Linked DNA regions of Homo sapiens. Changing the gene in region 3 together with the main gene of any one other region gives a genetic interaction. Each region holds a gene or a part of one and is shown on either strand. Other genes may lie near its edges. The genes, in order: MTPAP, MRPL46 and SKIC8.

Region 1 (3,655 bases), on a different chromosome or scaffold from region 3:
AACTCCTGACCTCAGGTGATCCACACCCCTCGGCCTCCTAAAGTGCTGGGATTACAGGCATGGGCCACTTCCCAGCAGCTTTTCACTTTCTTTCTTCCTTTTATTGGATTACTCCTGCTTTATTCCTGCACTTTCCTCCTTACCCTTTTTTTCTCTTTCAAGTTTGGATATTATTTCTTCCATTTATGTTCTCTTTAACACGATGTCTAATGGTAAAATTAACCAGTGTCTCTTCCATCCTCCCAAACAATATAAATGATGTCTTAATTTAATTACAGTGTTGAAAAGGCTATTTATTTTTATTTTTATTTTTTTGTTGGAGATAGAGTCTCTTGCTCTGTTGCCTAGGCTGAAGTACGGTGACGTGATCTAGGCTCACAGCAACTTCCGCCTTCCAAGTTCAAACAATTCTCCTGTCTCAGCCTCCCAAGTAGCTGGGACTGCAGGCAGGGGCCACCATGCCCGGCTAATTTTTTTGTTTTAGTAGAGACAGGGTTTCACGTATTGGTCAGGCTGGTCTTGAACTCCTGACCTCAGGTGATCCATCCACCTCAGCCTCCCAAAAGTGCTGGGATTACAGGCGTGAGTCACCACACGCGGCCAAGGCTATGTGTTTTTATAAAATGTTTAGTTTCTATGGCTGTATCTTTCCTTACATCTTTCAAACTAGTAGTGAACATCAGACTTTATGTGGATGTCCAGTTGATATTTCAAACAATATTTTGAGACAACTTATATTCATCTTCCCACAAATGTTCTTTCTAAGTTCTTACAAAAGTTCTATATGTTTCACATGTTAATTAGTGGCATTTTAGCTTTGCTAACCATTCTTTTAATTCTGCTTCTAAGTTGTTATCTTTTGTATTCATAGTTTCACAGTCCCTTATAAACTCTCACTTAGATTATTGTAACTACATTCTGTTTCCACTTCTTATTCCTTGTGTCATGCCTTGATATTTTAACCTTCAGTCTTTGTTGGAGTTACCTTCACTCACAGTTTGAATTTTCCCACAAAGTTAGAATGCTTCTTTTCTTTAGCATAGTATTGAAATCCTCTGTGTCTTAATTAATTTTAGTCATCATTTCCCATTATATATTGTTACATACCCAATTTTCCAACTACATTGTTTTTATTTTTCTTTTTTTAAGACGGAGCTTCACTCGGTCACCCAGGCTGGAGTGCAGTGGCATGATCTTGGCCCGCTGCAGCCTCTGCCTCCTGGGTTCAAGTGATTCTCCTGCCTCAGCCTCCTGTGTAGCTGGGACTTCAGGCACGCCCCACCACGCCCGGCTAATTTTTGTGTTTTTAATAGAGATGGGATTTCGCCATTTTGGCCAGGCTGGTCTGGAACTCCTGACCTCAGGTGATCCACACACCTTGGCCTCCCGAAGTGCTGGGATTACAGGCTTGAGCCACCATGCCCGGCCCCAACCACATTGTTTAATTACCATTTCCAGTAATAGAAGGCACTTGTAAATATCATAATGATCAAACAGTTGTTCTGTGCCTTCACTCAGGAGTGCACTTTCCCTCCATTCCTCGACTCATTCCTAATGCAGCTTTCAAGGTCTAGTTCTAATTCTACCTTCTTGAAACCGCTCTTGATTTTTTTCTCCACTCCAGCCAAAATTAACCACTCCTTTTTTGTAGTATCTTGCAGGTATTTCTATCTGTCTCCAAATTTCTTCTGTCATGTTTAGTGAGTAGCTGATGTATGTATCTCCCACTATATAATAAACTTGGGCAGATAGGAATCATGTCTGTTCATATACTTATTCCACAGTACTGTGTACTTAATTTGCTCACCATATGCTTATTGAATTGAAGCTAGCCAGGCATAGGAAACAGATAAAAATTAAATGGGTCAGTTTTATTATAATAATAATTATTATTATTACTATTTTGAGATGAGGTCTCACTCTTTTGCCCAGGCTAGAGTGCAGTGGTATGATCTCAGCTCACTGTAACCTCTGCCTCCTGGGCTCAAGCAATTCTCCTGCCTCACCCGTGTGATTGAGACTTCAGGCTTACACTGCTGCTTCCGGCTAATTATTTTAGAGATAGTGTTTCATCATGTTGCCCAGGGTGGTCTCGAACTCCTGAGTTCAGGTGATCCACCCACCTCGGCCTCCCCAAGTGCTACGATTATAGGGATTACAAGCGTAAGCCACCGCATCCGGCCTGGATCAGTTTTATTAAGACTAACATGTACTTGAAAATATATTAAGTTCCTGGCAGTGGCACTTAAATTACATTAGGCTGTCTTAAATAAAGGATTGTAACTGAATAATCAAGGAGCATAACAGTGTGTTGTAATGGTTTAAAAAGCCTGGGCTCTGGCATCAAGCTGCAGAATTTTAATTCTACTTACTAGTAATGTGATCCTAGGTAAGTTATTTACCTTCTCTCTGCCTCAATTGTCCTAACTATAAAATTGGAATGGTGTTATAGCACATATCTCATACAATGTTTGAGAGGATTTATTGAGTTAATATGTGTGAAACATTTAGAACAGTGCTTATGGCACAGAGTAAGTGTTGAAATGTTGACCACCATCAACAGCAATATAATTTTACTCTTATGTAAGTGGGAGGCAAAATTTTTTCTTTGGTGGAAACAGGCAGGAGTTAGAAACTTTCTTCTTTTTTTTAAATTTATTTTTAATTAATTAATTTATTTTTTTTTGAGACAGAGTCTTGCTCTGTCTCCCAGGCTGGAGTGCAGCGGTGCCATCTCGGCTCACTGCAAGCTCCGCCTCCCGGGTTCACACTATTCTCCTGCCTCAGCCTCCCGAGTAGCTGGGACTACAGGCGCCCGCCACCACGCCCAGCTAATTTTTTGTATTTTTAGTAGAGATGGAGTTTCACCGTGTTAGCCAGGATGGTCTCGATCTCCTGACCTCGTGATCTGCCTGCCTCTGCCTCCCAAAGTGCTGGGATTACAGGCATGAGCCACTGCGCCCGGCCATTTTAATTTTTGTTTTCTTATTGACTCGTTGTTTCACCACGGTACCCAGGATAGTCTCGAACACCTGGGCTAACGATCCTCCTGCCTCAGCCTCCCAAAGTGCTGAGATTATAGGTGTGAGCCACTGCACCTGGCCTAGAAACTTTTAGTTGAGTCTTACTCTTAGATTTCTGAGGTATAGAGGTATTTAGAAAAAGATGTTTTAAAGACAGTGCTCCAGTCTTACTAAACAATTAGGCATTTTGGGCCGGGCACAGTGGCTCAAGCCTGTAATCCTACCACTTTGGGAGGCCAAGTCGGGTGGATCACTTGAGGTCAGGAGTTCGAGACCAGCCTGGCCAATGTAGTGAAACCCCGTCTCTACTAAAAATACAAAAATTAGCTGGGCGTGGTGGTGGGAGCCTATAATCCCAGCTACTCAGAAGGCTGAGGCAGGAGAATTGCTTGAACCCGGTGAGGCAGAGGTTGCAGTGAGCCGAGATCACGCCACCTCACTCCAGCCTGGGCGAAATAGCAAGACTCTGTCATACATACACAGAAATAACCAGAACTTGGCATTTCCTGTGTCAGTTTAAATTAGGAAAGTGTTGTTATAAACATACATGTGCTTATTTAAGGATTTTTTGGAAATATGTTTTTGTTCAAGATTATAATAGCTTTGCTAGTAAAAATATTAAAAATAAAATA
Region 2 (2,861 bases), about 10 Mb from region 3:
GTATGCTCATCTTTGCTCACATGGGCAAATTAGTATATCTGGTAGGATAAAAGTCTAGAACTGGAGTTGCTAGGTCAAAGGGCATGTGCAATTAAGTTGACACCTCTTGCCAATTAATAGCACTTATACTAATTTATAACCCCTCCAAAATATGTGTGAAAGTACAGGTTTTTTCCTTATCCTTCATAAGCAGAGTACAGTTAAGTTTTTGAACTTCAATAATGATATATGTTGTTGTTTAACTTTATTTCTTTAAATTATTAATAAGTTTGAACACCTTTTAATGTATTTATGGGCCAGTGATATTTATTTTCATGTGAGCTTAACTGTTCATGTGCTTGGTTCATTTTTCTTTTTAATTTGTTGTTTTTTTTCCTCATTGATTTTTTTTCCTTTAGAGATGGAATCTTGCTATGTTGCCCAGGCTGGCCTTAAACTCCTATTCTCAAGCAGTACTCCTGCCTCAGCTTCCTGAGTATCTGCATTGATTTTTAAGTGCTTCTTATACCTTAAGATATTCCTTTGTTGAACGTGTTGAAAATATTTTTCCTAGTTTGTCATTTTGTCTTTGACTTTTTTTGTGCTTCATTTTTCCTTGCAGAAAGATTTAATTTTTATGTAGACAAATATAAATCTTTTGTTTTTTGGGCTTAAAAATTTTGTTTCTTGCTTAGAAAGGCCTTGCCCTCTCAAATAATATCTTAAGGTTTAAGAAAGCATCCTGCATTTTCTTCTAATGCTCATGTGTTTTTATTGTAATTAGAAAATATGCCCTGCACTTTGGGAGGCCGAGGTAGGCGGATCACTTGAGGCCACAAGTTCAAGACCAGCCTGACCAACATGGCAAAACCCCGTCTGTACTAAAAATACAGAAAAAAAATTAGCTGAGTGTGGTGGCACATGCCTGTAATCCCAGCTACTCAGGAGGCTGAGGCATGAGAATCCTTTGAACCCAGGAGCCTGAGGTGGTAGTGAACCAAGATTGCACGACTGCACTCCAGCCTGGGTGACAAAGCGAGACTCTGTCTTGGGAAAAAAAAAATACAGAGAAGATTGGAAAATATTAAATGTCCATGAAACAACCATCCAGAATGAATAAATTTTTTATGAAAAGTTAAAATGTCTATTGTTAAATCTTTGATCTATATGGTATCAATTTTATTGTGAGGACTGAGTATGGAATCCAGCTTGGTTTTTCCCATCTGGCTAATCAGTTCTTCAGATGCCGTTTAGTAATTAGTCCATCATTTCCCCATCATTTGAAATGCTGAATTGGGGTTGTTAACCCTTAGTTATAGATTACAGATACTGTCTACTCATCTGTTTTTGTCTTTAACTTGGTTTATGCCTTTTTTCACTAGGTAGGAGTTAAAACTGGGGTCCTTTTTAATGCTTTCCAGGTGACACCCATTTTAAAGGTGGATGAACTTTGTTTTACAGACCAAATGTCCTCGTCCTTCACCAGCAGATAGCGACTGGGCTGATTCACCAACAGTTAGCGACTGGGCTGATTCGCCAACAGATAGCGACTGGGCTGATTCGCCAGCAGATAGCGACTGGGCTGATTCGCCAGCATAGCGACTGGGCTGATTCGCCAGCAGATAGCGACTGGGCTGAATGTAGGAACTAGGTGCTCTGACTCCCAGGTGTGATTGTAACTGTGTTGCTGACTTTCAGTCTAAAAACAGTAGCTTGGCACATGGGAGTGAGCCTGGTGAATCTGGACTCCATGGGCCAGGAGGCATTTGGATTGAGAGGGGAGGAGCCTCTTTTCAGGAATGGCTCTAGTCCTATTCCTAGGGATTGATTTTACCTCAGGGCCAGATCTTGCAGGGACCCCCTATAATTTTGGGAGCCAGAGTAAACAGATGGCTGTATCCTTACCTTCCAATTGTGATTTTTCTTTCCTCCCTCTTCAGAAAACAACATGGAAGCCAAGTTCCTAGGAAATGCACCCTGTGGGCACTACACATTCAAGTTCCCCCAGGCAATGCGGACAGAGAGTAACCTCGGAGCCAAGGTGTTCTTCTTCAAAGCACTGCTATTAACTGGAGACTTTTCCCAGGCTGGGAATAAGGGCCATCATGTGTGGGTCACTAAGGATGAGCTGGGTGACTATTTGAAACCAAAATACCTGGCCCAAGTTAGGAGGTTTGTTTCAGACCTCTGATGGGCCGAGCTGCCTGTGGACGGTGCTCAGACAAGTCTGGGATTAGAGCCTCAAGGACATTGTGTGATTGCCTCACATTTGCAGGTAATATCAAGCAGCAAACTAAATTCTGAGAAATAAACGAGTCTATTACTGTGTTGGTCTCAGCTGATTTGCCCTTTGATGGCCCAGTGAAGAGAGCCATCTCTTAGGGTGTCTTTCCATTTTTTTCCCAAGGTGATCACTGAGTACTGGATTATATTACAGTGCGTCACTGAGTTACTGGGCCCAGGAAGAAAGGACAGAAGGAAATGAATTGACTTCCCGAAAGCCTTGAATTCTGTGAAAGCTTCTCTAGGCCCTTGGGAAAAAACTAGTTCTATATAGTTTCTTAGCCATTTCCAGTTTGTTTTTCCTTCCCTCTGCACTTGATATGAAGGTGTTTTAATCTAGCCTGGGAAATAATCCTTCCTTCTTTCCCCCCCTTCCTAAAAGCATTTTATTTTAAAAAGAATTGAGTTATGTCTTAACCTTTTTTGAAACAGTCATGTGAAATGTGCAGTTAGTTTATCTCCATTCTACAGATGGAGGAATCACGGCCAGGTTGTGACTTAGCCCAGAGTCATACTGCATGTGCCTGTTGGTGCTAGAGGAGAATGCTGACCCCAATGCCCCTCACCTCTGGGGCTCTTGGCTCTTCAGTGTGTTGTTT
Region 3 (3,655 bases):
AAAATTAAAATATCCAGACATGTTGGCACGCACCTGTAGTCCCAGCCACTCGGGCTGAGGTGGGAGCAAGACTTGGCCTGGGAGGTTGAAGCTGCATTGACCATGATTGTGCCACTGCACTCCAGTCTGGGTGATGGAGCAAGACCCTATCTCGAAAAAAAAAAGTCCGCCAAAGGGGGTCTTTGGCACACACAAAGAAATAAGAACCATTAGCCCTTAATGTAGCCTGAGAAATTAGATCTATCCTTTTTTTTTTATTTTTTATTTTTATTTTTTAAGATGGAGTCTCGCTCTGTCACCCAGGCTGGAGTTCAGTGGCACAATTTCAGCTCACTGCAACCTCCGCTGCCTAGGTTCAAGTGATTCTCCTGCCTCAGCCTCCTGAGTAGCTGGGATTACAGGTGTGCGCCACTACACCCAGCTAATTTTTGTATTTTTATTAGAGACGTGGTTTCACCATGTCAGCCAGGATGTTCTCAATCTCTTGACACGTGTCTCCCTCCAGCTTCTGCCCTTATTTACCTGCCTGTTGGCTCTTAAAGGCATTTTTGGTTGAGACTTTTGCATGTAAAATAAGAACTTTGCCATCTTTGGATTCCCCCATGTTTGTTTGTTTGTTTTTAATAAATAATATTTAATATTAAAAGGAGCTGTGGTTTTTTTCTCTCTAAAGAGCAGGAAAGGACAGAGACTGGTCGCTCTCTGCAGTCACACTTGAGGTGAAGAAACCATGGGATAGAATTAGCTGTTAGTTGAGTCCCTAGGTTCAGAGGAAGAAAGAAGACCATACCACCTGGTAGGGAGTGCGAAGGAGGTTCCAGGGACTGATCCATAGAAGGGTGTCAGAACAACTTCATAATAAAGAGTTGCCTTATTTTCTTGGTCAAGGGGAACTTCCTGTGTGCCTTCTATCCTGATGACACCCCCTCACTGAAATCCTGGTGTTGTTTCCACAGAGCTGTCTGGCCTTTTGTCCTTGATCCTTGGTTAAGGAAATGACCAACCAGGTAAGACCTGTGTTGAAGGGAAAAACATCAATTGGTCTCTTTGCCAAGTTCAAGTCCAGTAGGTTTTCTGGATGTGTAGTCAAGAAACTAGCATCTCATTCTTGCCTGGCTCCTAAAGAGCTGGGTGACCCTGGGTACCTAGTCACCACAGTGTTAGGTGGGACTAGTGAAATGCAAATACTGAGAGGAGGATTGGTTCATCCAAGTCTTTACCACAATTTAGTGAGTAATAGAAGAAGCTTAAAAGATGTTGTACAAAAAAAAAAAAAAAAAGATCAGAATAGGAGATAGAACAGGAGAAACATATCTTTGTAATAAGATTAGGGACAAAGTTAATAGACGGTTAGGCAGGCTGTGTGTTCTTATTGCAGCTGCAAAATTTAAGCTACAAACTGGACTTTGAGCTTCCTTGGTGATCAGAACAGAAAAAGAAAACATAATTTATTGGTCTCTTGTTGAGTGAGTTTGGGTAGTAGGAAGGAGGGGAGAATGTCAGTTTCTTTAAGAATTTTTTTCTGATATGACTGTACAAATCTTGCATGAATGGGAATCAAGGAGCTTGCGGGATGGCCAGGTTGACAGCAGAGGAAGTAACTAACACTGTGGTGACTCTGTCTACTCGGGGAGGAGTGCTTTCTGGAGGCAATGTGAGACATCTGAAATCTGACCATGGGTTTAATGTGGCTTCTGTTCTTTTTTAGTACGGTATTCTCTTCAAACAAGAGCAAGGTAAGTAGCCTGCCTGTTTAAGCAATTCATCTGTGAAAAAAACTGTGTTGTCCCTGGTTTAAGACTTTTGTCATGCTGACCAGACATGCAGTTTTCAAGTATACTCACTTTGCAGAAGAATTGGCAGCTGAAAACAAATACTCTTAAAAAACAGACAACAACAACAACAACAACAAAAACCTGAACAACCAGCTAAAAAAAAAAAGCAGTCATCATGATAGGTTGGGGAATTCTAGGCTGAGGAAAATTTTTCCACCTGAGGAAGACATGATGGAGCTTCCCAGCTGCTGAGGTGGAAGAAGGAAATGCTTTGAGGCTCAAAACTCTGTTAATGCCGGCTCATCTGGGGAGGTGAACGTGAGCCTTTTTCTGAACTCAGAACTTGCTTTGGCCCTTAATGAAAGTGAAGCCTATAATAGTGAAATGAGTTTCTCTTGAGGCCACCGAGTGCATGGGGAGGGCTGGGAGCTGTGCAGCAGTGGCAGTGGCAGGGATGGGAGAGCAGGTGGCAGGTCAGAGTGGGCTGGGATTGTAACTGACCAGTGGTACAGAGCTTTGTACCCAAAAAGGAGCCATGTTTGTGCATGGGCTACTCACCCATCTCATTTCTTCACTATAGCCTCGATGAGTTTGAGAAGGCCTAAGGAATTTGTGGAATGCCTAATAAAAGCTCTTGCTCTCTAAGTAGGTGACATGGAGGTAGTTTGACGTTTAAGCCAAAAGCATCATTCAGGTTAGCTAGTGTAAGTAACTAGTAGGCTAATTGGGCATGCCAGTCAACTACCTTATATGTAGCTATTGTCATCCAGGTGGCAAGTTAGCAGGCTTGAGTTAGGTGAGGTTTGAAATGGAAGCCACAACGCTGTCTGTGGTGCACAGCTGTTTTAAGTTTAATGCCTTTATATTCATATTTTGGGAAGGTATCGCTGGAGAATTGTTGCCAGGCAGGGGTAAAGCCTCCATGTGCACTTGTCACGTTTTTACATCCACACTGGGTCTGCACATACAACAGCATGGCCTACCAAATATGCAGCTTACAGACTTAGACTTAAGGTAGACTTTAATTAATAGAGATTGGATTTGAATCCTAGCACCTCTCATTCCTTGTCTATAAAATGAGGATATTAATAGTACCCACTTCATAGGATTGTTGTAATGTAATAATTGGCCCATTAACCATAATAAAGATACTTGTGGGGAAAGGCAACTTAATATATGGAGGCTATAGTAGGTATTTTCTTTTAGATCTATACTGTTTAGAATTGAACTGCCTGCTTGTTTCGAAAGATCTTTTCGGAGTATCTGTTACCGGGTTTAGGCCTTTTCTTGGTAGGAGGGGGTCTTCCCCACTGGTTTTACTTGTTTTTAGCCAAGTGATAGCCATTGTAGACTCCTATATACCAGATAGCATGCTAAAAGAAAGGACACTGGATTTAGAGTCCGAAGTACTACCTTGTCGCCTGGTAAACATGAGATTTAGGGCAAGTAGCTTCTTCAGAACCTCCAATTTTCATATGTGGCCCCAAAATTTCAATAAAAGCTGTATAGGAAAGCACTTTGTAAAATAGTAAAGCAAATACAAATAAATGTTACCTCACAATTGTTGAACAGTATCTCGGCTTCATTAAGTCGTATGCAAGAAGACTTTATAAATGAAGCACTTTCCATTCTAGCCCATGATGATGCCATTTGGTCAGTTGCTTGGGGGACAAACAAGAAGGAAAACTCTGAGACAGTGGTCACAGGCTCCCTAGATGACCTGGTGAAGGTCTGGAAATGGTGAGTGCCTCTCCCCTAACATACAGCCTTGGAAAATTGGGGGCTGAGGTTTTGCTTCTGAACTCTCCAGTTGCAGTCCGGGAAATACTTTTTTCTAGGCAAGAAAGCAATAGCAATATGGTGGTATAAAACAGCAGCTT

The links.
Region 1: changes in SKIC8 (region 3) and MTPAP together harm fitness less than expected from each alone (positive genetic interaction), as found in Homo sapiens cells (one large-scale study listed by BioGRID).
Region 2: changes in SKIC8 (region 3) and MRPL46 together harm fitness less than expected from each alone (positive genetic interaction), as found in Homo sapiens cells (one large-scale study listed by BioGRID).

What each region holds. Positions count from the first base shown.
Region 1 is NC_000010.11:30,332,152-30,335,806, reverse strand, and holds part of MTPAP (poly(A) RNA polymerase, mitochondrial precursor), read left to right. Parts: intron 1-3,655. UniProt on the Homo sapiens protein: Polymerase that creates the 3' poly(A) tail of mitochondrial transcripts. Can use all four nucleotides, but has higher activity with ATP and UTP (in vitro). Plays a role in replication-dependent histone mRNA degradation.
Region 2 is NC_000015.10:88,458,922-88,461,782, reverse strand, and holds the end of MRPL46 (large ribosomal subunit protein mL46), read left to right. Parts: intron 1-1,919; coding exon 1,920-2,170; 3' UTR 2,171-2,305; downstream 2,306-2,861.
Region 3 is NC_000015.10:78,293,027-78,296,681, reverse strand, and holds part of SKIC8 (superkiller complex protein 8), read left to right. Parts: intron 1-888; exon of another isoform or gene 889-956; 5' UTR 957-995; coding exon 996-1,007; intron 1,008-1,708; coding exon 1,709-1,736; intron 1,737-3,409; coding exon 3,410-3,515; intron 3,516-3,655. UniProt on the Homo sapiens protein: Component of the PAF1 complex (PAF1C) which has multiple functions during transcription by RNA polymerase II and is implicated in regulation of development and maintenance of embryonic stem cell pluripotency.